2 separate regions of the Homo sapiens genome follow, and region 1 is linked to region 2. The links come from fine-mapping of genetic effects on gene expression. A gene starts in region 2. The other region holds a variant in brackets. All regions are shown on one strand. Distances are from middle to middle.

Region 1 (15,294 bases), 38 kb before region 2:
TGAATGTTTATAGTGGCATTGTTCATGGTCACCAAAAACTCAAAACATCTCAAATGTTCATTAACTTGCAAATGGATAAACAAATTGTGTTCTCTATATACAATGAAATATTATTTAGCAACAAAAAGGAAGGAACTACTGAACCACAACAGAAGTTGTAGGAACTACAGCTCAGATATGAGTATCAAAAACATGCTATGGTAAAGAAGCCAAAAATGAAAAGACTACATAATATATTTATATGAAATTCTAGAAAAAGAAAACTATAGCGCAGAAAGTACAGTAGTTGCCTGAGGCCATGTTTGGGGAAGATGGTAGATTGCAAAAGGGCACAGGGAACTTGTGGGAGTGATGGAAATTTTCTGTATTACGATTGTGGTAGTGCTTACACATCTATACACATTTGCCCATACCTGGCAAACTTTACACATAAAATAGGTGAAGTTTTATTGTGTATAACTTATACTTCAATATAGATGTTAAAAAATTAGAAATCAATTTTGTCTGACTCCTTCCCTTTAATGACTGCCATCCAGGATTACTCTCTAGGGAGGAAAGTGTCTCATTTAGCCCAGTCATAGAGCCACCCAAAATGGGAAAGCATTGAAGAAAACAAATTGCCATAAGAGTCTCCTGTCCCTGCCTTGGATCATTTCATGCTAATCCAAGGCAGTTTATGCTAAAAAATGTTAAATTTATCAGGAATTCGATTAGGTTTTAATTTGTCTATTTTACTACAAATGGGCCTTATGTTTAGATGGTGATGGCACTTGGAAATTATATTTATGTTTGTTTCATCTTGAAAGTGTGCTTTTACATATATATTTATGAATGTATATTGAAGCTTTATTATTAGGATATGTCTTTCATTTGGTTAAATGAGATGTGAAAATGCAACATGCTTAATTTCATTCTATTTTTTAAATTTCTAAACATTGAAATTGTTTTTTGAAATGACGCTTTAAAATATTTAACTTATGAAATAAATTTGTCTCTGAAAATCTAGATGTTGTGTTATGTATCTATTTTCTCTAGACAGGAATACATTTCTAATATGGATATATATGTCTGTCTTTTTTCAGGCCTGGTTGCAGTATGCTTGAAATCTGTGATGTGGAAGACCCTTCCAATGCAGCTAACCCTCCCTTATGTAGCGTCCTGCTCAAAGATGCCAGGCCTTACTTCACCACAGTATTTCAGAATAGTGTGTACAGAGTATTGAGGGTTAACTGAGAAGGAAACTACCCATTACACTATGGCACAATGTGGTGTGTCAAAAACAATCACCCTTTGGCTTATTTACATTAATAAAAATCACAAGCTTTAATAACAGACACTTAAAAATAAGATAAAAATGGATTGAAAGTTTCTCTGATTACTAAAAGGTAAATTACTTTTCTGTTCATTGAATGTCAGCCTTATTAAGCTTGTCATATAAGTTATTAAATCATTCATGTCATACTGCATAAACAAATGTTCATTTCAGAATTTTAAAGAAAAATGTATATAAAAGAACAATGAATTTTAATAAATCAAGGGTACGTAAGTCCTTTTTCATCCAACTAGGTGAATTGCTTCAGATTTTCCCTAGTACCAGAGTGTACCTGCTCAAACTCTTTGAACCACTTAAGGGAGAAGAACGCAAGCTCTGAAATGACATCCTTAAAATGCTGATACTGATCACAACCTCTTTACCTCTGTGAGCAAATTGTAACAGTGTGTCTTTTAAGGTGTTTTTATTTCACCAGCCCTTAAGAAAGATCTCTAATACCTTTTAATACTTTTTTTTTATAATTTCAAGTTGAAGTGTTTTTAAAAACACCTTGTTTTGTAACGTTTTGAATCTCTTGAGATGTATTTACCCCACTAGATACATATTTGCCACTGGTTAGTTCTCCATCTAAGCTCAAGAGGTTATTCATCTCTCTTTAGATTCCAATGGTTTTTCTTTTAACATCCAGGTAAAATAGAAACTGCTATGGTATACAACCAAATTTTGGGGTTAAACATAATCAGAAAAGAAAATCCAGTTAAATTTATGAAGTGAGATTTTCAGATCCTAGATCTTGAATAAAGCAAACGGCTTTTCATCTTGATGGCCCCAAAGCTTGTTGGTCATGGTCTTTATTTCTGGCCACTATCATCTTCTTAAATAATATATTTTTAAGCCCTCATTTATTTTTGGTTTTGGATGAGGAAAGTCATGTTTTCTAAGTCCTCTCCCCTAATAAAACCTACCCAACAATAGTGCTTTGAAAAGTGGTAGTTATCTTGAAGATAGATACTCTTGCCAAATGCAAAGATAAACATTCTTTTTGTCTGCTTTATAAATATGAAATATGCCAGATCTATAGTATTTTAATGTGCATCTACTTTAAATGAGTCATCTTGGGGTTTTTATAATTCCCTTACATTCTTGCCCCTCTACACTTGAAATAACAAAATGCCTTAATTTTATAGATTAGTTCTCTTATAGCAGACAGGCAGCTATATGCAGCAAAACCAATAAAGTTATTTTTCAACTTTAATAGTTGTAAAATGTTATAACAGAATACATAACAGCTAAGAAAACATGCCACATTTTATTTTAGCATTTTCAAATAATTTGTTTTTGGTGTAAGCACAGGATAAAAAAGGAGAGCGTCAAAGAAAAGAGACTTAAAAAAATAACATTCATAAAAATTAACAAAGTATATTTTGGATGATGTTTTTACAGGAAATAGTTTAAGTTGGTAGAATTTTTAAAATGGTACTGTATTAGCTAATAAAATATTCAGTACATATATATGTTTGGATTTATGCATTAAAAAACTAATAAAATTATTTCCAACTTTTGTATTTGTAAATTATTTTGGTACAGGAGACAAAGCATCTAAGAAAGCATGCCGCACATTTTACTTATTTTAGCATTTTCAAATAATCTGTTTCAGTGATGTGTGGGACAAAAAAGGAAAAGAGACGTAACACCTAACATAAAATTAAAGTAACACATTTCAGATGATGTTACAGTAGCAAAGACTTGTAACTAACCCAAATACCCATCAATGATAGACTGGATAAAGAAAATGTGTCACATACACACCATGGAATACTATGCAGCCATAAAAAAGGATGAGTTCATGTCCTTTGCAGGGACGTGGATGAAGCTGGAAGCCATCGTTCTCAGCAAACTAACACAAGATCAGAAAACCAAACACCATATGTTCTCACTCATAAGTGGGAGTTGAACAATGAGAACACATGGACACAGAGAGGGGAACATCACACAAGGGCCTGTTGGTGGGGGGCAAGGGGAGGGAGAGCATTAGGACAAATACCTAATGCATGCAGGACTTAAACCCTAAATGACGGGTCGATAGGTGCAGCAAACCACCATGGCACATGTATACCTATGTAACAAACCTGCATGTTTTGCACATGTATCCCAGAACTTAAAGTAAAATAAATTTTAAAAAGTCAGTAGAACTCAACAAAAAATGGATGAGCTGTACTAATAAAATGTTCCATACACATACGATGTTTTCATATATATTTATGTTATTTTCATGTACTAGCTGTGTTAAGTAACTGTAAAGCCCTTGAAGATCCTGTTTTCTGTCTTTTCTCATCCTTCACAATGCATACATTTTGAAATTGAAATTGTTCTCATATAAAGGGAGAAATAGGTTGCTGGGCTTACTAGCCATGTTTACACTGGCAGTGCTCTTTCTTAGCCATTTAAAAATGATTCTGTATAGTCTTACACAGAAGGCAATATACTATGATGGAAATAGTGTGAGCTGTGCAATGAGATGTATCGAAGTTTGAATACTGCTTCCATTAGTTAGGTACCTACCATGTATTCAAAAGATATTCATTAAACACTTACTGTATGTCAGGCACCATGCTATGGTTGGTCATGTTACTTAACTCCATGAGCTTTCTTCACCTGTAAAGCAGAACTCACAATACCTACTTGGCGGAGTCATTATGAGGATTAGTGAAACAAAGTTTTGAAGTACCTGGCACATAAAGGCACTCAACAAACATTAGTTTCTTCTGCACTACCCACTACAACTCACTAATAACCATTTCAGTAATATCAAGTTGCAGAGTGAGGTTAGCTCATTTCAGAATTCCAAATAGTCTCCCCTTTATTTGATGTCAACAAATAGGAGTACTGGGCTGCAGCTTGTTCTTATACAAATTGTTCTACTGAATTCTTGCCTGTATAAATTTTATTTTTTATTCTTTTGAAACATGAGGAGATTTTCACTTAATTCAATGAAGCTTTTTCCATAGTTTCTAGGATCCTATGTTTGCACACTAATCTGCAACTATGGCTAGAAGTGAGGTGCACACAAGCTGCAACAATTCCTTCATCTGCTTCATCCGGTTGTCAGAAGCAAATGCACAGCTTCAACAGTATCTGTGTTCTACCACTTTGCTGCTGATAGACACCAAAAATCTGAGTACTTTAATAATAAAATTATGTTTATATTTTTATACATTACATGTTCCTATTATACACGAAGGACAAACTCACAGAAAAATTAGTTTTGAAAAAAACAGGACATTTTAAAGAAGGGGACAATTATATATATACATACACATAGCAGCAAAAATGGCAATAGCTCAAAAGTGGTTAAGATATACATACAGACACTGCAATGAACATCTTAGTGCATACTTTATGATTTTAAAGTTATTTCCATAGGAAAGATTTCATAAAGTTAAATTTCCTTAAAAAAACTGTGGACACCCTTAAAGCCTTCAATGCAGTTAGCCTCAAATTACCTTTGCAAAGGTATGTGTGCACCTTTTGGATTGTATGCACCACCAAAAGTTAGTGTGTATAACAATGCTCATTTTACAACACTCTCACTGGGATTAATTAGCCTTATTAAGAATATATTTTGCTAATTTGTGAGGCCCAAAATAGTATTTGTTATTATTCTCATTTGTATTTGTTCTATGTCCAGAAAAACTCACCATATTCTTTAGAAAGTGTATGTCTCTGAAGCTCTGTATGGGTTCATATTCTTTAATTCATCGAGTCTGTTCATAAAGGATGGGGATTGAGATAAGGGGAAAGAAAAATCTTTGAAAATTCTTAATAAGAGAAATATAAGGACATTTTCAAAAGGACAGGTATATATATATAACTTCATGCACAAAAGTCAAATTTAAATGGGTCAAGGACTTAAATGAAAGTAAAATGTTTAAAGTCTTAGAAGAAAATAGGGAAATACAGATTAAAACCACATGGTAATATTTACATTCAGATAAGAATTGGTGAGGACAGGGTGCCACAAGAACTCTCATGAAATTATAGTAGGAGTGTAAATTGGTACAGCCACCTTAGAAAATAAGTTGTTAATTCCTAATAAGTTTTAAAGTATGTAGTCTCTGCAATTTATAGTGTCACCCTAAAGAAATGTTGTTACAAATATACCAAGGAAACCAATTACAAGAATCTTCATGGAAGCATTATTTGTACCTGAGGAAAAAAAGCTGAAAACAACTCAAAGGCCCACCAACAGAATGGATAAAATGGATATTTCCATACAACGTAATATTGTAAAGGAATGAATGTGATCTACAGTGACAAGCATCAGTGGGAACCAATGTCAAATAGACTGTTAAAAAACTAAGTCATCAAAGGGGATGTGTGTGCATGTCAATATATATGCCATTTACATAGGGCCTAAAAGCAAACAAGACAATATTATAGAAGATATAGTGTGGCAAAACAGCGAAAGCATAGGCATAATTAATTCAAAACATAGGCTGGTGATCACTTCTAGGAAAGAATGCAATACAGGAGAAGCCCTGGGTGCTTCAATGTTAATATTCAATTCCTTGGTGTTAAGTATACAAGTGTTCATTTTATAATTCTTTAAAATGTGTGTGTATATATGTATATAATGCTTAATATATATTTATACTCTTCAAAGTAGGGCTTTGATTCCTCATCAGTGGTTCTTAAACCTCATGTTCTCTTTAGGTAACTCTGGGAGCCTAAATAAGCATCAAGAGTTGTTCTGATGACACGTCCAGCTATTCAAATAAATGTTCAAATTGTAGATTTTATTGTTTCCATTTGTGCAATGTATTTTTTTCCTTCCAACTTCTATTTTAGGTGCAGGAGTACATTTGCAGGTTTGTTATATAGGTAAATTGCATGTCATGGGGTTTGGTGTACAGATTATTTTGTCACCCAGGTAATAAGCATCGTACCTGATAGGTATTTTCTCAGTCCTCGCTCTCCTCCAACCCTCCACCCTCAAGTAGGCCCTGGTGCCTATTATTCCCTTCTTTTTGTCCATGTGGGCTCAGTGTTTAGCTCCTACTTATAGGGAGCACATACAGTATTTGGTTTTCTGTTCTGTGTTAGTTCACTTAGGATACTGGCCTCCAGCTCCATCCATGTTGCTGCAGAGGATGTGATCTCATTTTTTTATATGGCTGTACAGTATTCCATGGTATATATGTACCACATTTTCTTTATCCATTCTGCCATTGATGAGCATTTAGGTTGATTCCATGTCTTTGCTATTGTGAATAATGCTGCAATGAACATACATGTATATGTGTTTTTATGGTAGAACAATTTATATTCCTTTGGGTATATATCCAGTAATGGGATTGCTGGGTTGAATGATAGCTCTATTTTGAATTCTTTGAAAAATCTCCAAACTGCTTTCCACAGTGGCCAAACTGGTTTACATTTCCACCAGCAGTGTATAAGTGTTCTCTTCTCCACAACTTCACCAGCATCTTTTTTTTTTTTTTTTTTTTTTTTTACTTTTTCATCATAGCTATTCTGACTGGTGTGAGATGGTATCTTACTGTGGTCTTGATTTGCATTTCTCTAATGATTAGTGATGGTGAACATTTTTTCATATGCTTGTTGCCTACATGCACGTCTTCTTTTGAGAAGTGTCTGTTCACACTTTTTGCCCATTTTTAATGAGGTTGTTTGTTTTTGCTTGTTGATTTAAGTTCCTTATAGGTGCTGGATATTAGACCTTTGTCAGATGCATAGCTTGCAGGTGTTTTCCTCCATTCTGTAGGTTGTATGTTTACTCTGTTGATAGTTTCTTTTACTGTGCAGAAGCTCTTTAGTTTTATTAGATCCCATTTGTCAATTTTCGTTTTTGCCGCAATTGCTCTTGGCATCTTCATCATGAAGTCTTTGCCAAGGCATATGTCCATGGCCTTTCTTGTTTTCTTCTAGGGTTTTGATAGTTTTAAGTTTTACATTCAAATCTTTCATCCATCTTGAGTTGATTTTTGTATATGGTGTAAGGAAAGAGTGGTACGGTGTCTTAAAAATTACCAGATTGTGTTTCATAGGATTTTGAAAAAAAGATGTCATTCATAGAAATTGCATTAAAATTCACATCTCTCAGGATGTGTTTCTTCATCTGTACATAGGTGATAATACCTACCTCATAGAATTACGAGGATCAAGCCAAGTGTTCCATGTCAATGTGCATTATTAAGGGCTACACATGTGATCCACTTTAATACCACCAGACAATAGGCCAACTTTGAATTGGATGTTAATAAAAAAGCTATGATGTATTCATAATCCAAAAGAGCAAATAAGATTATTTATATTTGACTTAGAATAATTTTTTGAGGAGCTTTTGCAGCTACTGACTTCTTTAGTATGCTTGCCTGAGATTAAAATAGATATTGACTTCCTTATTGTGCTTTTCTGAGATTAAAATTCTTTCATATCCTTTGAGCCCATATAGATAATGGCTTTTACTTTTAAAATTTTCTTCCAAGAGATACATATAACTCATATGTAAATATTGAGATTATTCAGATGAAGCTGCAAAGCCAGTTCACAGACTATACTGGATTGAATCATATCCAAGAACCTATGAATTTTATTTAAAAAGCACCTCAGCTATTGAAAAGAGCAAGACTGTTTACACAGCTTCATACAGACCTAAGAAATACAATGGAGATCATACATGAGAGTTATTTCTTTAACAAGGATGGTGTGGCAGCCACAAAAGTACACCACCTTTAGGGTACTCCTCTGAGAACCTGCTGTCCAGCTGCAGGGAGCAGAGGTAACTGACAGCCTTCAACTGTAGCGCCATCAGCATGTGCATGGCATTCACTCTGGGTCACATTCTTCCTGGGTAACCCCCAGCCAATGACTGAGCAAGGAAGATATACTAGTCTGTTCTCACATTGCTATAAGGAAATACCCAAAACTGGGTAATTTATAAAGGTAAGAGGTTTAATTGACTCACAGTTCAGCATGGCTGGGGAGGCCTGAGGAAACTTACAATCATGGCAGAAGGTGAAGGGGAAGCAAGCCACCTTCTTCACAAGGTGGCAGGAGGGAGAAATGAGCGCAGGAGAAACTACCAAACACTTACAAAATCATCAGCTCTCGTGAGAACTCACTACCACGAGAACAGCATGGGAGAAAACACCCCCATGATTCAATTACATCCACCTGGCCTCTCCCTTGACATGTGGGTATTATGGGGATTACAATTCAAGATGAGATTTTGGGTGGGGACAGAGCCAAACCAGATGAGAAGGGTACTGTAGGGCCTGGCTGTTTCAGCCCAATGCTGAACTGCTTCATCAGGCAATCTTTGCTCTGAAGCTGCTCACTGAGCAAGCCAAGCCCTGGTCAGCCGTCCTTTGCAGCTGGAGGCTCTCCCGCTTTCTTCCTCTTTCATAGATGTCAACGGGCCTCACAGCTGAAGGCTTTACCCACCCAGTCCTGCTCCCCATCCTCTAACAGCTATGA[C/A]ACCTTCCTAGTTTCACCCCTTCACCCGTTCCAGTTTTACATAAGTTTTCCTCACTACACAGAGATGGTGTGGTGCCACCAAGATCATTATTCATTTTACAACCTTACTGGGATCCCCTGATGATATCCCTCTGAGACTGCAGCACAGTAGACCCTGGCAGAAGACAGGACCCTGTACCTATAAGATGCCTTTTCTATCTCACAGATCCAAACCATTGTCAGATTTTAGAGTTCCTAGTATGGAGAAAAGTCCCTTGGGAACAGTAGAGCCTGGATTGAACTCTTTTAAAATAAGTAGGAGGTAGGCGCTTGTGGTCCCAGCTACTCGGGAAGCTGAGGCAGGAGGATCGCTGGAGCCCAGGATGCAGAGAAACACGATTGCGCCACTGCACTGCAGCGTGGGCAACAGAGTGAGACTGTCTCAAGAGAAAAAAAAAAAGTGAGTGTGCAAAATGTTCATTTTATGTATACTTAGTGCCATCTGCTGGCTATGAAATATGATAGCATTTGTCATGAAATTACAAAAAGTGTTAAGGTGCTAGTTTGCACGTTTTCATGGAAAATGGGAGAAAGCAAGAGAACTCAAGGACATGCACTACATTTTAGTTTTGTTTGAGTTGTGATGATCTCAGTGGCTCTTCTCTCCCTCACCCACCCACCTCTCCTATTTGTTCAATCTCTCTCCCTCCTCTGGTGCCTTAAAAGGGTCTCCATGCTTTGCATCCCTCCTCCACTCCACGATCAGGGACCCGCCCGGCATCACACGTTCTGCTTCAGCAACAATGAATTGCTGGAAATTTCCAGCAACTCTTTTTCCTGCCAGTGCTCACACTGTACCCTTGCCTGTTAAGGTCTTACATGTCTTCCTCCCACACCCCTGCCTCTCACCTGCTCAGATGTCCCCTCCTGCCAGCAGCCAGTCCTGACCATCCCCTCTGTGCTCTGCTAATGCCACTCCACCTGTCACATAGTTCGATCATTTAAAAATGATCTGTTTTCCTTTGAAGTCTTTCATTGAACTCTGAATTACTTAATAAAAGGGTTTGTATATTATTTATTCCTGTTTTCCACCCGACACCGTACCTGGAACATAGCAGATGCTCAGCAAACATTGCACAAAAGAATAATGTGGAAAATAAATGGTTAAAACATAGAAAAATTTTAAAGATAGGGTATTTGGGTCACTTTTACTGTTTTCTGTCCCTACAATATGGCTGAATCATCCCCCATATGGCTCAACATTTTCTTAGTTCTTTTAAAAGTACCCAACACTATATTGAGTGCTCTGGGGATCAAAATAATAGTATATATATTAAGGCTGGGTTTGAATCCCTGCTCTACCATTTACTAGCTGGGCAATTTATATAACACTTTAAAATTTCATCATCTGTAAAGTGGAAATATTAAAGGTATCTTCTTCAAAAGTGACATTTGGAAAAAAAAATAAAGTAATACATGTAAAGCATATGAGATTCAGTAAGCACTGGGTTAGTGGTGAGTTGTTTTTGTTGTTATTGCTAAGACCCAGGAACCCATTGTTTGAAGATCAGCATAGAGCACTTACTGGTTGGGTGGGATTTCTGTTCTCTACTCAATGGTTTGTTTATTCTTTAGAGACTGTCCCCTCTAGAGTCTATTATTAATATTTTCTTATGCCAATTTATGGGAGTTTTACTATTGTGCTGTTTCTCTAATAATAGCTAATTTATATCTTTAATTTTTAAAAGCCATTATGCTGGAAACAGAACATTCATACAAACAATACATGAATGAATGTAGGTTATACTGCAAAATAGCTGGTTACTATAATGTAGTGGTATTCCATGGCTTTAAGTTTAAAAATAACTTCACATTTACTAGAGTGGACTTACCCTCCAGGCATAAAATTTTAAAACCCAACAACTCCAGGCCTCCAGAGTCTTTACTTCCCACTAACTTCTCACCAGTGAAGGCGAAGCTAATGAAAAAGGATAGATGACTGCTTCTCAATTGGAAATGGATCCAAATACCATCAAGGGAATTGGTGTTGGGTATACAGATTTTACCTACTGTCACAGGCTGGCTGGGTGGAGGATGGGGAAGGTGGTGGTATCGGTCTACTTTTAGAGTTTTAAATGTTTCTCTGAATTCCTGTAGCAGATAATTTTGAGAAAATTTTGCCTAGAGAAAGAGTCTGAAACCAAAAAGCTAATCAGAAGCAAAGGTTTGCAGCTTGGATCTTTAACATTAATAAGTCTATTGCTTTTTCCTACCTCCCACTCCTGCTACCTGAAGAAGGTGAGTAGGAGGGGAGGGATTTTGAAAGAAGAGGGATGTGGAGGGAAAAGGACATAAGTGGTGGTTGGGTAGATGACAGATAGTGGTTGTCTGCCTGCCACCCATCTAGGTATGTCTCCACGGGTGGCCTCTGCTTTTGCCCACAGGGGACTCATTCACGCACAAAGGAAGATGACAGACAATTGGCCAGAACATAGAGCACTGAAATGAAACACAAAGGCCACTCTTGGGCCTCTGTGTTTCATCACAATTATGTTAGTTTGCTAGGGTGCCATCATCAAGTACCACAGACAGGTGTCGGAGATCAAGGTATCTATCAGGAGGGTTAGTATCTTCTGGGATCTTTCCTCTTGATTTGCAGATAAGTGTTTTCTCCCTGTGTCTTCACATGATCTTTCCTCTATGCCTGTTGTGTCCTAATCTCCTTTTCATATAAATTCACAGTTGAGCACATAACTCGTATTTAATACCATATGTTGGAATAAAAAGCCTTATAGCAATGCATAGGATAGAAATTCTTTTCTTTAAAACTTAGTTTGAGTATTTTGCAGTAATGAAAAATGGTCCTGACATACAGAATGCCATCTAGCTTACACCTGCATGGGGCATGCATGGCATGAGGCATGCAGAAGAAAAAGATGAGCAATCCTTACCTGAAAAGAGACCACCCTCTCCTTTAATGGGAGGGGAAATTAAAGAATAATTTAATGGGAGGGGAAATTAAAGAATAATGCCCATAGTTTGCTGCAAACACTATTGCTCAATTTAATACTGTAATGGAATCTACAATGTGTGTACAATCATTGTTAACTATACCTTTATTATCTTTATAATGTTGAGGTAAAGAGCTTTCTGCTATTATGCATTAATAACTCCATCCCTAATGCCATCATGGTTCTAGTGTCCAGGGAAGGAGTCTGTATTAGTCTGCTTTCACACTGATATAAAGAATGCCAACAGAGACTGGGTAATTTATAAAGAAAGGAGGTTTAATTGACTCACAGTTCTGCATGGCTGGGGGGCCCTCAGGAAATTCACAATCATGGTGGAAGACAAGGCACATCTTACACAGCAGCAGGTGAGACAGAGAGAGAGAGAGAGAGAGAGAGAGAGAACGAACCAGGAAGTGCCACACTTTAAAACCATCAGCTCTCATGAGAACTCACTCACTATCATGAGAACAGCATGGGGGAAACCACCTCCATGATCCAATCACTTCCCACCAGGTTCCTCCCTTGACATCTGAGGATTACAATTTGAAATGAGATTTTGGTGGGGACACAGAGACAAACCATATTATTTCACCCCTGGCCCCTCCAAAATTTCATGTCCCTTTCAAGTTTCAAAACCAACCATTCCCTCCCAAGAGTCTTAAAGTCTTAACTCATTCCAGTATTAACCTGAAAGTCCAAGTCCAGAGTCTCATCTAAGACAAGGCAAGTTCCTTCTACCTATGAGTCTGTAAAATCAAAAGCAAGTTAGTTACTTCCAAGATACAATAGGGGGCCAGGTGCAGTGGCTCACACCTGTGATCCCAGCACTTTGGGAGGCCGAGGCAGGTGGATCACCTGAGGTCAGGAGTTCAAGACCAGCCTACCCAACATGGTGAAACCCCATCTCTACTAAAGATACAAAAATTAGCTGGGTGTGGTGGCCGGCGCTTATAGTCCCAGCTACTTAGGAGGCTGAGGCAGGAGAACTGCTTGAATGTGGGAGTTAGAGGTTGCAGTGAACCGAGATCACACCAGTGCACTCCAGCCTGGGTGACAGAGGGAGACTCCATCTCAAAAAGAAAAAAAAAGATACAGTAGCGGTACAGCCATTGGGTAAGTATTCCCATCCAAATGGGAGAAATTGGCCAAAATAAAGGGCCCACAGGCCACATGAAAATCTAAAACCCAGCCGGGCAGTCATTAAATCTTAAAGCTCCAAAATGATCTCCTTTGACTCCATGTCTCACCCAGGGCACGCTAATGCAAGGGGTGGGTTCCCATGGCCTTGGGCAGCTCCACCCCTGTGGCTTAGCAGGGTACAGCCCCTCCAGCTGCTTTCATGGGATGGCATTGAATGCCTGTGGCTTTTTCAGGTGCAAGGTGCAAGCTGTTGGTGGATCTACCTTTCTGGGGTCTGGAGGATAGTAGCCCTTTTCTCACAGCTCCACAAGGCAGTACCTCAGTGGAGACTCTGTATGGGCGCTCCAACCCCACATTTCCCTTCTGCACTGCCTAACAGAGGTTCTCTATAAGGGCTCCACCCCTCTAGCAGACTTCTGCCTGCTTTTCCACACATCCTCTGAAATCCAGATGGAGGTTCTGAAAGCTCAACTCTTGTCTTCTGAATACTCACAGGCCCAACATCATGTGGAAGCTGCCAAGGTTTTGGGGCTTGCATTCTCTGAAGCAATGCCCTGAGCTGTACCTTGGCCCCTCTTAGCCACAGCTGGAGCTGGAGTGGCTGGGATGCAGGACGCCATGTCCCAAGGCTGCACAGAGCAGCAGGGCCCAGGGCCCTGAGGACATTTTCCCTCTTAGGCTTTTGGGCCTGTGATGGGATGGGCTACTTTGAAGATCTCTGAAATGCCCTGGAGACATTTATCCCATTGTCTTGGTGATTAACATTTGGCTCCTTGTTACTTATGCAAATTTCTGCAGCTGGCTTGAATTTCTTCCCAGAAAAATTTCTACCACATAGTCAGGCTGTACATTTTCCAAATCTTTATGCTCTGCTTCCCTTTTAAATGTAAGTTCCAATTTCAAACCATCTCTTTGTGAGCGCATGTAACTGAACGCTTTCAGAATCAACCAGATTACCTCTTGAATGCTTTGCTGCTTAGAAATTTCTTCTGCCAGACACCCTAAATCATCTCTCTTAAGTTCAAAGTTCCATAGATCTCCGGAGCAGGTGCAAAATGCTGCCAGGCTCTTTGCTAAAGCATAGTAAGAGTGACCTTTACTCCAGCTCCCAATAGGTTCCTCATTTCCATCTGAGACCATCTCAGCCCGGACTTCATTGTCTATATCATATATCACTATTAGCATTTTGGTCAAAACAATTCAACAAGTCTGTAGGAAGTTCCAAACTTTCATTCATCCTCTTGTCTTCATCTGAGCCTTCCAAACTGTTCCAACTTCTGCCTGTTATCCAGTTCCAAAGTTGCTTCCACGTTCTCAAGTTATCTTTATAGCAGTACCACACTACCTTGGTACCAATTCTCTGTTTTAGTCCGTTTTCACACTGCTATGAAGAATACCACCAGAGACTGAGTATTTATAAAGAAAGGAGGTTTAATTGACTCATAGTTCTGCATGGCTGGGGAGGCCTCAGGAAACTTACAATCATGGTAGAAGGTGAAGGGGAAGCAAGGCACATCTTACCTGCGGCAGGCAACAGAGAGAGAGAGAGAGACTGCAAGAGAGAGAGAGAGACAGAAAGCGAGTGAGCGAGAGCAAGCGTCAGGAAGTACCACACTTTAAAACCATCAGCTCTTGTGACAACTATCATGAGAATAGGATGGGGGAAACCACCCCCAAGATCCAATCACCTCCCACCAGGTTCTTCCCTTGGCACCTGAGGATTACAATTCAAGATGAGATTTCAGTGGGGACACAAAGTCAAACCATATCAGAGTCTTCCTCTTAAAATTCATGGAAAGGTCATCTCTATCTAATCTCTCTCTGATGCTTCTTTTGGCAGTATCACTAAAGACATTTCCATCCCAGAGAGTAGATGTGGAGGATGTCAGATTCAAAAAGAAAAAATTATTTGTCATTGGTTACAACCACAAAACCATTTACTATAGTTTTAATATTGTGAATATCTGTTCTGATCCCAAGAGATCATCAGTCAAGTAGAGAAAAATAGAACAAACTATTTCTAGAGTGTCTAAAGCATTCATTCTATCATTTTAGTAGATGATATACATGAACATCAACATCCAGTCATTTCCTGAATAAGACAAGACATTATAATTTACCTTAGAGTGAAGCTGTTCTCATAGAATTTACATTGTGCAATTTTGCTTTTTCACATGAATAAATTAGGGGCTCAGGAAGTAGAAGGACAAATAAGGCAGAGAACAAGCAGGAAAAATAATTGAGGTAGGACCAGTAATCCATGGAGGATCCCCAAGTTCAGGTGAAAGCATAGAATATATCTGAATGTGAGAGTTGAGCCAAAGATAGACTCATTTAGCCATGGACTCACTGATGTGTGATCAAAGAAAAATAAGTCTGAAGAGCACTGGAAAC
Region 2 (15,294 bases):
GAGAGGCACTGGGGAATGGTGAGAGGCACTGGGAAATGGTGAGAGGCACTGGGGAATGGTGAGGGGCACTGGGAAATGGTGAGGGGCACTGGGGAATGGTGAGGGGCACTGGGAAATGGTGAGAGGCACTGGGAAATGGTGAGAGGCACTGGGGAATGGTGAGAGGCAAGGCTGGAGAAGAAGGGGCAGGAAGAGGGTGTGTGTCATAGATCCTGAAGGCCTAGTTAGCCATGTCAACAGATTTGGAAGTGGTGAATGGTTTTCAAAACAAGGAGTGACAGGATTCGATTTGTATATTGGAAACAGCTCTCTGGAAGATTGATGGGCAACAAGAGAAGATGCGAAGAGGTCAGTTAGAGCTGCTGCTGAAGACCATGGGAAAAATGACTGTGGATCATGGCATTGAGGGTGGAAAGCAATGAATTGATTTGAGGACCATTAATGAGACAGAATCAGCAGGATGACTGCCTGGATAAAGGAATAGGGGGAATGGTAATGCCACTTGCTGGAGTAAGGAGACTGGAGGAAAAGCAGGCTTGGGCTTTGGGGTTTCAGGTGACTAAAAGACACCCCATCACAAGGAGGAGCCCCTCTTCTGGACACAGCCAACCTCTCTTCCAGGGGATGGTGCTCCCTCTACTAACTAGCTGCTTGGTCATCTCTCCACTCTTCTGGCTGCCTTTCTACAGTCTTAAGCATGCCCAAATGACATGGCTGTTATCTTCATTAGAACTCTCCACTAAACCAGCATCTCCCCAAGGCAACCACTAGATCTCTCTCCTTCCTTCATGCATAGACATCCTTGGCAGAGTACCTTATACTTGCTATCTCTGCTTCCTCAGAGGCTTCTAGGAGTCCTTGTGCTTTCCACAGAATGATTTTCCAGTCACACTCAAGTTAACAGAAGTCTGGCATCTTCATCTAATACTGCACAGAACTGCTCTAACAAAGATGGTTAAAGACCTCCATGTTTCTGGTTCACAGGACACGCCAGTCATTATCATGTCAGCTGACCACTTCCTTCCATTGATTTCTCTGACCCACATGCTCCTGGGTTTTGTGATCTCTCTGGCTGCTCTTTTCCAGTCTCCCTTACAGATATCTCTTGTTCACAAACATCGATGTCCTCTAGAGTTCAAAAACTAGGCTCTTTTTACCTCACACACATCCCCTGGGTGATCTCATTATTGTCTTTTTGTTGAAGATTTCCAAACCTGTGTCTACAGGCCAGCTCTCCTCAGTCTCAGACCCATACACCCACCTGCCTGTTCAGTGCTTACACTGGGGTAAGAAGCAGACTGTTTGGTGAGTCTGAGGGTATGTGGCAGCTCCTTCTGATGGTGCCCAGTTTCTCCATTGAGTAGGAGGCAAGGCCATGTTTAGGGGAGTGGGAGTGGGTAACATGGTAGCAGGTTTAAGAGACTAGTGGACATTTGCTGTATCTTCTTGGGAGAATGGAACTAGGAGAATGTAGAAGGCAGTATGTGGGATCCAGTTGCTAATGGAAACTATGAATCCATAGGGTTCCTGCCTTCTATGTTGTGGGATTTCTCCAGCACTCCAGTAAATAGCATGGGTACGGATCCAAAGTTGGATAGTAACATTCTGCCACGTGGATGAGACAGACGGACCAAGCAAGGAAAGATCCCGGCAGAGGGAGTTGCAGTGACAGGCCCTGGGATGAAGACAGAATACCAAACAGACTTGGAGACAGTAGAGGATTGGATGTTTGAATTTTAAAATGCAGAGGCAAAGCCAGACTGGGGTGATGATATGGTGCAAGGTGAGACCGTAAGTATTGGTCAATGACATGAAGTGGGAGTGCAGGTCCCTGGAGATGAGGATGTCAAGGGGCTGAGAGGCTCAGTGTTGAAGTCATTCCTAGCACTGGTAGGAGCTGGAAGGACTGGGGCCAATGCTGGTGAGGTCAAGGGGGAGCTAATGGGCAGTCTGCACAAGACACTAGTGACAAAGAGCAGAGATAAAAAGGAGTTCAGAGGAGTTTTCCAGGAGGGAGAAAGAGGGCTTGGGGAGGGAGGGAGTGGAGCTGTGGGAGAATGAACCTGTCATAGGAGAAGGGTCTTCTGGGAAGGGGTGGAAGCTACAGAGAAGAGCTGAGTGTATCAGGAACAGATCGCTGACCCCAGGAAGCATAAGGCAAGGTTGAGTAGAGGGAACAGCTTAGGAGTCAGAGGATACATTGTGTGATACATCCAGGTTCCCACCCTAGATAATGGAGGTAGGAGATTGACCAAACGGTGTCCAACTGAATTGGTCCCAAATCTTCCTGTGTCTGGGGGCAGGTGAGAGGAAGGTTCAGGCCTCTGAAAAGGAGTCAACAGAAGCAAGCTGGAGGAAAGCAAGTTCTGGCCCAAAGAGGAGGCCAGAGGTAGAATTTTTGCCTCCCAGTATTCCTAAAGCCACCTTCATAGTAGGGGGAACTAAGTACCCTTGGGGGAGAAGCCTGCTCTGGCCCAATTAGATTTGGGGAACTCTGAAAGCCAGGCTTCAGATGGGGTAGTCTAGGCATTTCTTGTTCCACTCATTAGTTACCTCATTCATTCACTCTTTAATCCATTCACTTATTCCTAAAACGTACATTAGTTGTTTCTTCCCTTCCTTCCTCATCTGAAGAGGCTTAAAGTGTTCATATTAGCACCGACTGTGTGCCAGGCACTGAGCAAGGGTTTTTAGAAATATATAGCTCCCTGATTACACTTCCTTTGCCATGTTCCCTTCTATTAAAACAAAATCTAGCCTTCCAGCATGGCCTAGACCAAATTTCACCTATTCCCTGAAAACTAAATCACGTTGGCCATCATCTCTTCCCTTTGGAAATCTTTTAGTACTTATTCTCTGAATCACATATTTTGCTATATATGTTTTTCTAGCTTACCCTGCCTGTCCAATGAAACTGTAAGCCCTTGGGGATGGGGATTTAGTATATGAATTTTAAGTGTCTCTAATATCTACTAAAGACACAGTAAGCCCTCAACAACAGGAATTACATTCTAAAGAGACATGCCTCTCTGCAACAGAGTGGTTCTTGATGATGCACTATAACTAGACCTAATAATGAACTCTGAGTTCCTCAGGAACACTCATTGGAGCATGAACAGTTTAAATTACAAGGTCAGCTCCAGGAAAGACAGAAGATAAAATGTGAAGAGCAATAGAGTAGCAATTTACATTTGTTCTCATCAGACTAAAAGAATATATTATAATATAGTGTCAAGTTAATGCTGGAGCTTTGGAAAGTAGAATGTTACAGACATATTTTGTTGCACCCATTTTAGGTTTCCAAGAAGTGTGCTGGAATTATGCAGGTTCCTCTCTTGGAATGAGCAACTGCTTAGCAAGACAAATGTCAGATTCTAGAACTTGACCCTAGGACACTTTTCCAATACAGTGATCAAGTGACCTAGTTCAAGGAAATGACAAATAAATGTCATGGATTTCTCATTCAGCTGTCACTCTATGGGTAGGAGAGCAAGTAGGAGGAAAAGGGGAATATTTAGAAGTTCTAAATGGGGCCTTTAAAATGCCAATGTGGAGACATAAGAAAACTGGTTCCCAACATAGTCTTCCCTTGACCAAATTTACTTTTTTCATTGCCCATCTGACAATGTTTCCCTGATTCCTATACCTTATTATCACTAAGCTTTATTTCTCCACATCTTGTTTTCTTCTATGATTTTATGTTCTTGCTTTTTATTTTATGCTCATTTCCTCCTTATAATCTCCTCTGTCTCCATCCCCAAAGTTTAAAAGATATGTCTTTTTAATTAAACATTTTTATTTCAATGCCCAAAGTGTAACTTGTAGTGAGAAAAAGACTCGGCTTGCACCCCAGGGGCCAGGGCAGCAGCAATTCTTTATAAGTGGTTGCCCTTTCAGGTTCCTGTCCTTAAAAATCTGTCTGCCCTGACCCAGTATTTCTATAGCATCATGCAGGAAGTACCTTTCTGGTGCATCTGGAACTCCCAGAAAAAAAGCACATTAAAGCTGGTAATTTTAATGCTTAATTTCATTATAATCTTAGATCCGTTCATAGATCATCCATGTACAAAATGTTTTTTTAATATGCAGCTTTCAGTTTGCCAGAGATTTTTTGTTTTTTAGCATCCACCGCTATGTGTGGCAGGCACTGGTCTACAGATACATATAGAAATTAACTGCATTCCCATTCTCTGCTCTTGTGGATCTCGTTGTACTAAGGATAAAATGAAATCTGGCACATAATCTTCCATGACTGTTCTGGTTTCCATTCCTCCACCCTTCCTGTGTGAAATGCCTCCCTTTTGGGAGGGGGCACGAGGAGTTGCCTACTATTTTATCCAGGCCTAAGGACCCATGAGATGGGCAACATTTGTAAAGCATCTGTGGAAAGCAGGAAACCATTCAGGCACATCAACTGCCCAGAGAGCTGAGAAGCTTGAAGCCCAGCAGGCCTGGCTTAAAGATCACGTGGCTGTTCTTGCTCTCCCGCTCAGAGTGGCATTCTCCCCTTGCTATACCCCAACTTGGAATGTCAACTTCAGGTTCTGGGAGGACAGAAGTTTGCCACTCTCCTTAAACGTCATCCACTACTTTGAACACTTATTGAGCAACTACCAACATCCAGACAATTTGAACATTCACTGAGCAACTACTTGGATATATGTAATTGTTAGATGCTTTACACACATTGTCTTATTTTTTACAAACCTGTGAACTAGATGTTTTTGTTGCCTCCATTTTAAGAATGAAGAAATCCAGACTCAAAGAGGTATAATACCTTGGTCAAGGCTGGTATGGGTCAATGTAGTGGCTGCAAACTGGATCTAAATTGACCGTGTTTAAGAAAAAAACAAACAAAACAAAAAAACCAAAAAACTAATACCTCACACTGCCCCTCTCCGCATGGTTGCCAAGCCGAGAAGGGGAACTGACAAGCACTTGTGGAACTGCATTCATTCACTCACTCATTCAACAAGTGTTTTCCTGGTACAAACGGTACCAGCTTAAGGGAGGCAGTTCCTGAATTCAGGGCCTATCACATAAAGTAGACACACAGCAATCTAATAATTCAAATGTTGAACCTCTTTTTCCATGCGTCTTTCTAATCATTAAAAAAAATCCATCATTTGTATTATTTTTATTTATTTATTTTTTTGAGATGGAGTCTCGCTCTGTCGCCCAGGCTGGAGTGCAGTGGCGTATCTCAGCTCACTGCAACCTCCGCCTCCCGGGTTCAGGCGATTCTTCTGCCTCAGCCTCCCAAGTAGCTGGGACTACAGGCGCCTGCTACCACGCCTGGCTAATTTTTGTATTTTTATTAGAAACAGAGGTTCACCATCTTGGCCAGGCTGGTCTTGAACTCTTGGCCTCGTGATCTGCCCGCCTCGGCCTCCCAGAGTGTTGGGATTACAGGCGTGAGCCACGGTGCCCGGCCAGTTATTCGTATTATCTTTAATAGGCATTGAATTAGCTTTCTTTTAACTGAATACATTCAACATTAATCCCAGAGGTAGCATTGAGTTCAGCTGACACAATGTTTCAGAATCCAAGCCTTCTGCATCCTACTTTCAACCATTATTTTTTAAACCAGTGTATAAAAATAGTTGTTCTTTGCTCCAATAAAGACATTGGAAAATCCAAATTCATAAACTAGACAGGGTATGAGGGAGTATTAATTAGCATGGCAAACACCCTCCCTTTACAAAATAATCCACTGTCTCTTAAAAAGGCTAACAATGAACGAATGCTGGTATTAGTAAAGAAATCACTGGGCAAAGAAACAAAGAGCGAGAAAGCCACGTGAAGTCCCTGGAATTACAATAGAGATAAGCAGAACGATGGGCCTTGATTTACAACATTGGGACTTAAAGACAACTTTTTGGAACAAGCCACTGGGCACGGCCAGGAAAGGAACCTCCCAGTTGTAATCCATGCTGTTGTAAGACTGTGTGCAAAGAATGCAGGGGTGGAGGGAGAATTGGGATCTACCTGGGTTTCTAAATTTTCCCGGGTTTAATTTACTCGTGCATTCTGCTATGTAAAAGAAAACATATTTTCGACTAAAATCTCCTATCTTATCAACGCCAAGTTTTCCTGCTTCCTATTAAGCAACAAGGTTACAGCAAGTGTAACAAACTGAATGTACTTATTGATGATCTTTCCTGCTCCAGCCAATCCATCCTATCACCTTCAGCCTGGCTCCTACCCTGGTCTTCAGTTTACACTTGTGCCTCGTCCCTTATCAGCTCCCCATGAGATTCCAGGCTGCTATTTTAATACTCTGTTACTATCTTAAATCGGGTCGCACCCGTTCTTCTTGTCGGTGAGTGAGGGGCTGCGCTCCAAGTTGCGCGACCACACTGCGGGGAGTAAACGGAGACGGTGACTTGATTGCCACCCGCGCGCTTCACATCGGTGGGGCCGACCAGGCGCCCAGGGCGCACGCACAGCGCCCCTAAGTGGCCGCTCCGGGCGCCTTCTCCCTGCCCCGCCGCGTCTCGCCTGCGCGGGCTCCAAGCGCAGCCTTAACAGGCTCCGAAACTTGAATCAGCGCCCCGATCCCGAGAGGGCTCTTCCTTCGGCCCCATCACTCCCACAATGGAAGGGCGGCCGCCTCCGGAAGGCCGTCCGCCCCCGCGTCCTCGCACCGGCCGAGCCCCGCGCGGGCGCCGAAGAGGTGTGGGTAGCCGGGCGCCAGAGGGGTCGGGCCCCGCCTGCGCCGGAAGTCCGCGCGTGCGCGCTGGCCGGCCTGGAGCGCGCGTCCGGCGCAGAGGGGCGGCGGGGGCGGGGCCGCGGCCGCTCGCAGGGTGTCCCCGCCCCCGCCCCCCGGCGTTCCGCGGTCGCCGTGACAACCGGAGCGGCGGCAACGGCGGCGGGCTAGCAAGTCCGGCGCCGCCTCCCGGCGGTACTGCCAGCCAGGCAGCAGCCGCCCGGCCTCCACGATCTCCCCGCCTCCCGGCCCGCGGGGAGGGACGAGCCCGCCCTCCACCCTCCGCCCGCCCGCCCGCTGGAGAGTGAGCTGCGCCCAGCCGCCCAGCCAGCCCGCCGTTCTCTGGCCGCCGTCCGGGCGCGCGCAGCGAGCGGGCGCGACTATGCCAAGATGGTCCTGCAGGCGCGGAACAAGCACCGGGAGGCGGCTCCCAAGCCGCCCCAGCCACCCCGCGCCTCACAGTCGCCGCTGAGGGGGGCGTCGGACGTCGGCGCCGGGGAGCCGGGGCCCGAGCGCGCGCCCCTGTCCCCGGGGCGCAAGGGCGCCGCGGGCAGGAAGGGGCCCCGCGCCGAGCCCGGCGCGCCGCCCGCCGGGGGCGGCCTTGGGGGGCGCCTGGCCGCCCGGCTGCGCTGGGCGCTGGGCCTGCGGCGCGCGGGGCGCGGCCGGACCTGGACCACGCTCCTGTTAGGTGAGCAGCCCTAGCGCCGGCGCCGCCGGGACGCGGAACTTTGAGGCGCTGGCCCCCTCCCCTCCCCTCCCCTCCCCTTCCTTCCCCTCTCCTCCCGCTTCCGCCGCGCCGAGCCCCGCCAGCCGGACCAGCCAGTTTGCAGCCCTCTCCGACTTTTTCTCTGGGACATTCTTACCTTCTCCTCCCCGCAACTCCCTGGCTCAGCTCTCCTCGCACGCTTCCCACCCGCGCTCTGCCTGGGCTTTAAAAGAATGGCCCGGGGATCAACAGCTGCCCGGCCTGGCCGCGGGCAGCAGGTCTGCGCTAACGAGACTTGAGCGCTGCTGATTGGTACGACTGGCCGCCTTCCCGTTATCTCGGCCTCTGACCGCCAGGATGGTTTGCTTTGGCTTGGAAACGATTCCGTGGAGCTCAAAGCAAACGCACGTTCCATGTCGTAGAGAGTTGCTTAAACTTATAATTAAATTTTAGCGTACTTTTTTCTTCCTGGCCGCAAACGCCGCTGGTGGCACTTTATTTGTGATTCCCCTCGACACGTCACTTTCTAGGTTGTGTTGTGTTTGGGGCGCCCGAGCCTTAATCCTCCCTGCTGCCCTTGGAACCTTTGGTGAGGAGGGCTCTCCTCCCCTCCCTCTGCCATTTACCAAATGGATGATGTGTAATGATGTGCTGAAAAAAAAAAACAAAGTTGACGCATTCGTATGTTTCGGACTGACTTCAGGTTTCCTCTGTTTCCTGGTTGAATTTTGATAAGGCAAGTTGTAGCAGTTTGGATAACAGGCCTAATTTTTCTAAGTCAACTAGTGAAATGCTGTTACATTGCTTTTTTCTATATGCCTCAGTGGGCTTTTCGCTACTGAACTATTTAATTACTGTTGATTTATCCCTTAGTATATTTTCAGATTCCCTTGGTGACTCAAAGTTCCCTTAGCCAGGAGTTGGGGTCCAGTATAAGTCAAGGAATAGGACACAGCAAATTGGCTTCCCCTGAGATCACAGCCACAAATAAAAGCCACTCAGTCATAAAAAGCCAGTCATCTCTGTATGTTTTAATGGGCTCAAGAAGGTTGTTCCTAGGGTACTTTTTTTCCCCCCATTGCCGATTCAAGCCTAGAAAAACCAAGTTTGTTTTTCTTTGTTTGTTTGTTTGTCTGTTTCCAGCACATTTCCCCCCGCCCCCTTTTTTTTTATCTCAGTAGCAAGCTTGAAAAGCTGGCTAGTATGCAGGTTAGAAAAGCTCACCTTGGGGAGGCAGCACGATACAGTGGATGAGGCAGAGCCTTCAGATCTAGTACACAGCGGTTCAGTTTGGTTTAAGTTTCAGGTTCCTTTGTGAGTCTTTCGTTCTCTGCTAGTGGGGGGTTATCACATGGCGAATTTACTCCACAGGGATCCACAGGATCTGTTAAGGATCATAACTAAAAGGTGTGGGTGATACATGGGAAGATACTTTGTGTTTAGAGCACTTGACACATTGTAGTTGTTGTAATAAAAGAAAGTGTGTGATGCTGATTTGAGATCTGATGACAGAATGGAGTTGCATTTTTATTGAATGACTAAACATTAACCACTTTGTAGTAAAATATAGAATGGCATTGCTTCTTCAGGGATGTTACAATAACAAATCTTAGAATAATGATATTTATTGCTATTTTCTGCATATTTTCTTTTTTGATTGCGTTTCCTTTGAATCTTCTTTGGATGGATGCATGACTTATATTTGGATGACTTACCTTTGGATTTAGTAATTCCCATACCTAAATACAGTTTTGTATTAATGTAACAGTATAGCACGTTGCTTGACTTGCCCCTTTGAGCATTGAAAGGAGGTACAGTGAATGTGGTAGATTGTATTTTTGGGTGTACCCTGGACCATGGCCATCAGATATATGGAAGTTGGATGAACAGACCCAGGTCTAGAGACTTTCTGTCCTTGTTAACCCTCTGCATGAGGCCCCAGGGCACCTTGAGAGATGATTCTGCTGAATGATTGGACCTGGGTTGCTTCTTTCTCTGGCTCTGTACCGTCATAAACTGATGTCAGACCTATTTCTTCCCCACGATTATGCCCTGCCACAGCGTCAAAAAACCACTCAGATCCTGCAGAGAGGAGCAGAGTTTAGACATTTTTGAAAGCTGCCTTATTTCCTGTTTTCTTCCCCCCTCCCAGAATGAGTGAGAGTTGAGCTGACATTATACAGTATTTCAATGTGGGACTTTAAAATAGCTGTTTGGTTTTCCACATTGCATTGCATATTCTTTTGTTCATCAAGAGTTCATTTGTAACTGATCAAAAAAAGAACAATTATAACAACTAAATATTAAGCTAGACAGAAATGGATTCATTTCTATTTAGAAAGTAATTTTGTAACTTAAAGCTCCGTGATAGAAACACACATTTTCAAGAGTTAGAAACTGTCTGGGGCTTTCCTCCATAGGTTCTAATCACTGATGAGGAACTCACTGCCTTCCAACATGGTCTTTCCACTGTTGGGCAGGGTTAAGCATTGTTGAAAAGTCTCTTTTCATAAATATATGTTTTTCTTATTGTGGGGCATTATTTGCTACTTATTTAGTGCTAATATTTGTAAAGAGGGGTTCTTGACATGTTTATTTTTAGAAGTTTCAACCTGATAGCTTCCTCATGCAGAGGTGGCTGTGACATAGTAAGAACCTTGACAATGTTTCCCAAACTTTTTTGACCACAGCTGACATTGTAACAATACATTTTATATTAAACCTGTTCACACTTCCACAATGCAACTCAGTACATATATGCATAAGTCTATATGTCTGTTGGTCTATTTATGTATGCCAGTGCTCCGTCATGGAAACAATTGTGGTAGTAAAAGATACACCCATTAGACATGCAAACAAAGCATGTCTGTGGTGAAAGACTAACATGAGATACTATATACACAACAATAAAACAAGAACCTGAGTATGGGAAAAGTGGATGATAAAAACTACCTTTTCCCCCCTTTGCATTAATCCTGTTTGACTCATTCCCATTGCCCACCTGGTTCCTGTGGTCAATGGCAAGGGTACACCTGCTATAACCTGGTTCCTTATTGACAAGGCTTTGCAACCTCAGCATTGTGGCATTTTGGGTGGGATAATTTTTTTGTTGAGGGGGCTTTCCTGTGCACTGCAGGATTTTAGCAGCATCCTTGGCCTCCACCTACTAGATGCCACTGGTATCTCCCCAGTAGTGACAACGAAAATGTCTCCAGATTTTGGCCATTGTACCCTGGGAGGCAAAATTGTGTCATTTGGGACCACAGCTTTTATTCTCTACAGCTTACGAGAACCTTGAAGCCCATATGGTAGGAAACACTTGCGACTTCTTAGAGGCAGAAGTGGTCAGAAACTGGGTGGAGGCAGAGAGTTGAATCTAGCTGTTGGGGACTAGATGGGGGGAGCAATGTGGTGTGGTAGAAGCAGCATAGCCATATCAACACTGGCCTGCATTTGAATCCTGTTTCTGCATTCGAGCTGTTCTACACTCCTTTAATATTTCTCACCCTTAAAATGGGAATAATAAATGCTTTGTCTGATTATGGTAAAAAATAAATGAGATAATACATGTAAAATAGCACAGTAAGTTCATTCATAGTCAGTCATACCATATCATTGAGCGTCTACTAAGCCAGATGCTAGTTGGTGGGGTAAAATGTAGAATGAGACTCTGTCACCCCTACCTTCATGGAACTTACATTCTGGAAGGGGGGATGGTAAATAAATGAAAATAATTGCACATTGTGAATGAGTGCACTGCAGGAAAGAAACAAGCTGAGATAGAAAAAAAAGGAAATACCCTCTTTAAGTAGGGTCAGGAAAGGTCTCTGGGGAGGTAGCCTTGAAGCTGAGACCGATAGAAAGAAAAGATGTCAGCCGAACAGAAGAGTATGACAGAGCTTAGCATGTTGAAAGAAGAGAGGGTGGAGGTGCATCAAAGTGAGATGGGCATGGGCCAGATCTTGAAAAGGAGCTTGGGTTTTATTCTCAGTGCAACAGGAAGCCATTGAGGAATGCTCAACAGGAGGAGAGTGACATGATTAAATTTTTACTTTGAGAAATCTGCTCTTGGGAAAATGGGTGGTTGCACTACAAGGACAAAAGTGGAGAGACCCATGAGGAGGCTGTTCACGGACCTAGCAAGAGGGTTGCTGGCCTAGATGAAGGCGGTGGCTGTGGAGATGGAGAGAAATTGGTCAATTTGAGTTGTATTTTGGAGGTGAAAATGATAGGACTTATGAATTGGGCTTGGATTGAGGGAAAGGAAGGAGTTATGAATACTTTGTACATTTTTGGCTTCTCTAATTGGGTAAATAATGCTGGCATTCACCAAGATAGTGAAGACTAGGGGTATGGATGAGGGAATGGGTTTGAAGGAAAAGGTCAAGAATTTCGTCTTGGACATGTTACTTTTGGGACATTTGTGAGATGTCCAAGTAGAAATGCCAATCAGTGGTGGGATATGAGAGAAAAGGTCTGAGTGGAGATGTACTACAGGGAGTCATCAGCAAATAGGTGGTTTTCACATTAATGGTAATTGAATTTGTATTCCCATTGAACTTCTATTTCCATACTTAGGGGAACAATAGCATCTTATACTGATAGGGGGCTTACTCTTTGCCAGGCTTTGTTGGAAGTGCTTTAGATGAACTCATTTAACTGTTTACTCAGTCCTCACCATGACACTATGATTACTGTGCTTGTTTTACCACGTGGGGGGAATCTGAGGCACAAAGATATTAAGTAACTTGTCCAAGGTCACCCCTAGAATGTAGAAGGGCCAGGATTTGACCCAGGCAATGTGTTTCCTAAGTTCATGCTCTTAACTAGTATGCTATATTTCATCTCCTCTAAGGGGACAGTACAGCAAAAGAAATGAAACCCTAGAGTCCAATTCTGAGAAACCCTAACATTTTGTGCTCAATAAATGTTAGTTTTCTTGTTTCTTCCTTCCCCAGGAAAAAGAAGGAAAAGAGGGTCATACTTAGAGATACAGGAACAACAAGTAGAAAGAGCATATTAGGGGTGGCATAAGGGCCAAGAAAAGCTAAGGAAGCATGAGGCACAGGGACACAGGCCATCTTGGTGTGCTTGCTTTCAAACAGACACATAGACCCAACTGAGCACCAGCTGTGAGAGTGTGTTTATGTTAATTCATAGAGGTTATGCCAATGGGAATTTGGGATTTTAAAGAATTTCTTTAATGTTTACAGCCATTTTTTTTTCTTTCTAAGATAGACTTCTGGCTAACTCTAAAGAATGTTTATAATCACCTAAACATATTTTATTATTAACAGATACAGTTAGAAGTTTTCTGAATATGTGATGCTCATTAGCATCCAAATAACAAATTTGATAAGTTTAGTTTATGTAAATATAAGCATATGTTATCTATTTGTGATTGATTTTTGGCCAATAATATGGCATCAATACTGAAAGCACATACAGTTTTATTTATGTACATATGGGTATTTGGATGTTGCTAATATTTGAACCGTGGCTGTTATGCATTGTAAATACTTATCCTATTAGGCTGTATTAATTTCTCTTAATGAGTGTGTTAGGTATATTAATGTTTCTTAAAGTTCATGCTAATGAGGCAAGTTGTTACTTAGTAACCCCGAGGGATTGGTTCAAGGACCTCCCTCCGATATCAAAATCTGCAGATTCTCAAGTCCCTAGTATAAAATGGCATAGTATTAGCCTATAACATACACACATACTCCTGGATACTTTAAATCATGCCTAGATTACTTAGAATACCTAATAGAATGTAAATGTTACTTATATATTTGTTACACTGTATTGTTTAGGGAATAATATCTGCATGTGTTCAGTACAGATGGATTTTTTTTCCGCCTACTATTTTCAATCTGAGGTTGGTTGAATCTGCAGATGTGGAACTGACAGATATGGAGGACTGACTAAATCTACATTGTCATAGAGACCATAAACCTGTGTACATAGTTCCAAATGGGGTAGCTTTAGGCTTTATTATTCATATGTTTAATCCTAAATTCCTGTTTTGCTAGTTCTTTTGCCATCAGCTTGTACTTCAGCCAAACCATTGAGACATTACTCTTCCAGGGGAAGAGGCTGCTAGTTTTATTTAGTTACTGTTAGAACTGTTTAGTTATAATGGTTACTAGTCATCAAAGCTAGTAAAAATTACGTCTATATCTGGGTCTAGATGTTGTTTAATCTCATAAAGGGCAGTTTCATTTCATAGGGAAGATCAGTTCTCCATGGAGGACCTTTCATAATTCAGTCAAGAATCACTGAATATAAATACATTTAAAAAGCAGAATAATTTATTTTCAGAATACATAAATCTACAACTATTGTAGCTTGATTTTGTGCTTTAATACTGCTTTCTATTTTCTCAGCATTCTCACTATTATTTTTTTCCTGAGAGCTCTTAATAGCTGTTTGTGTTTTTCTGGCATCTTTCTCCATATTTGTGGCTGATTGTCAGGTGTGTTTTTCAGCACGATCACTATCACATAAAGAATGTTTGGATGGCATTTTGTAATTTTAACTTTATTAAAGCAGCAATTGTTAACATAATAGCGTAGCTGTCACCAAGACCACTTACAGAAGTTCTAGTATGGTTTATTGTACTGATCATGAAAACGTGTGATTTTATCTACTAGTTTACAGTAGCACTAATTGTAAACACAGTTTATAAGTCACTTGACCAGTTACTTTTGAAAACTTGTTACCTAGACAAATTATTAGTTTAGGGAGATTGTTGTAATTGAGAAGAGCGAGGCTTTATTAATATTTTTAATACTAAAATTTGTCCAAAGTGCTACTACTCTGCCCTTTGGGCAAATACTTTTCCTATTTCCTAACAGTAATTACTACTTTTTATAATATAGCTTTTCAGTGTTGGAGTTGTCAACAGCAGAATCTTTTTCTGCGGGTTTTCATATTAATCATAAAGTTCTTATGTAATTGTTTTCCGCTAAGTTTAAAAAGTTGTTGTTGTTTTTTGAAAATGAGACCTTATTTCTCACTCTTTTCTCATCTTTCATATCCATGGGAATGTTATAAAAATGTAGAACTTAAAGGTTACCCTCTTAGAATTTTCTTGGTGAGAAAACTAAAATAGGGCCAGGTGAATGGCCCAATGTAATTATTGAGTTCAGCAGGTGAAGTTTGGGATTGAAGTTGAGTTCTCTTGTCTTTGTTAATTACATCCGTGTAAAATTGTAGGTTTCAGATCTAAAGTCTAAGGCATCTGTCAAAGGCACATTAGTGGGAAGTTGACCTCATGTGTCCCATGACCCTAGAGCTCTTTTGACAAGAGCTTTACTGGCTTCTGGTCATTTGGGGGAATCACTCTTTTATATCTTTATGGTCAACCTGTCAGTCTCTGGGGTTTTTTTATATGATTATTTTTGAAAACTATTTAATTGAATTTTTTTGTGTTGGTTGGCTTGGCAATGATATAACAACACAGTAAAATAGTAAAAAACTGTCACAGTTTTCTTAGTCACTTAAAAGATAAGCAAGATTTGTGATACCCAGGGGAAGCTTGCAATTTGAGGGGAATGCATATCTTACCATTGGAATGGGTTATCAGTTAATGAACTTGTTAAATCTCTTGCTGAATATGATGGGGCCTGGACGTGTGTTGTAGGTGTGTGTGGTTCTCTTTTTACTCTAGTGGAGAGATGCAGATTCTACACTTTTTCCATTAGGTTTACTAAAGTTTTACAGCTTCCCTATGCATGCTCAGAAGCAGATCATATTATCTTGGTTGTGTATCTTATCTAGCCATTTGTTCTTAAAACAATAAAATGCACTTTTTTAATAAGAAGAAAGTTACTTTATGAAAATTACTAATGTAGATTACTGTTTGATTTTGAAATGT

The links.
Region 1: its variant is fine-mapped to the expression of DPY19L1 in whole blood (INTERVAL, PIP above 0.99).

The regions. Positions count from the first base shown.
Region 1 is chr7:35,067,529-35,082,822 of GRCh38, reverse strand. All of the region lies in intron 1 of LOC105375228 (a long non-coding RNA gene), which reads right to left. It also overlaps the pseudogene DPY19L2P1. Among named protein-coding and RNA genes, the nearest start is that of DPY19L1, 38 kb to the right of the region's middle. The variant C/A (reference allele first, on the strand shown) is at 8,771.
Region 2 is chr7:35,029,200-35,044,493 of GRCh38, reverse strand. It overlaps DPY19L1 (dpy-19 like C-mannosyltransferase 1), which reads left to right and starts at 7,009. Exons shown (of 22, transcript NM_001366673.1): 1 at 7,009-7,397. The coding sequence starts at 7,100. It overlaps LOC105375228 (a long non-coding RNA gene), which reads right to left and starts at 7,708. Exons shown (of 3, transcript XR_001745162.3): 1 at 7,573-7,708. RefSeq lists an enhancer at 6,170-6,399 and silencers at 6,450-7,119, 7,150-7,319.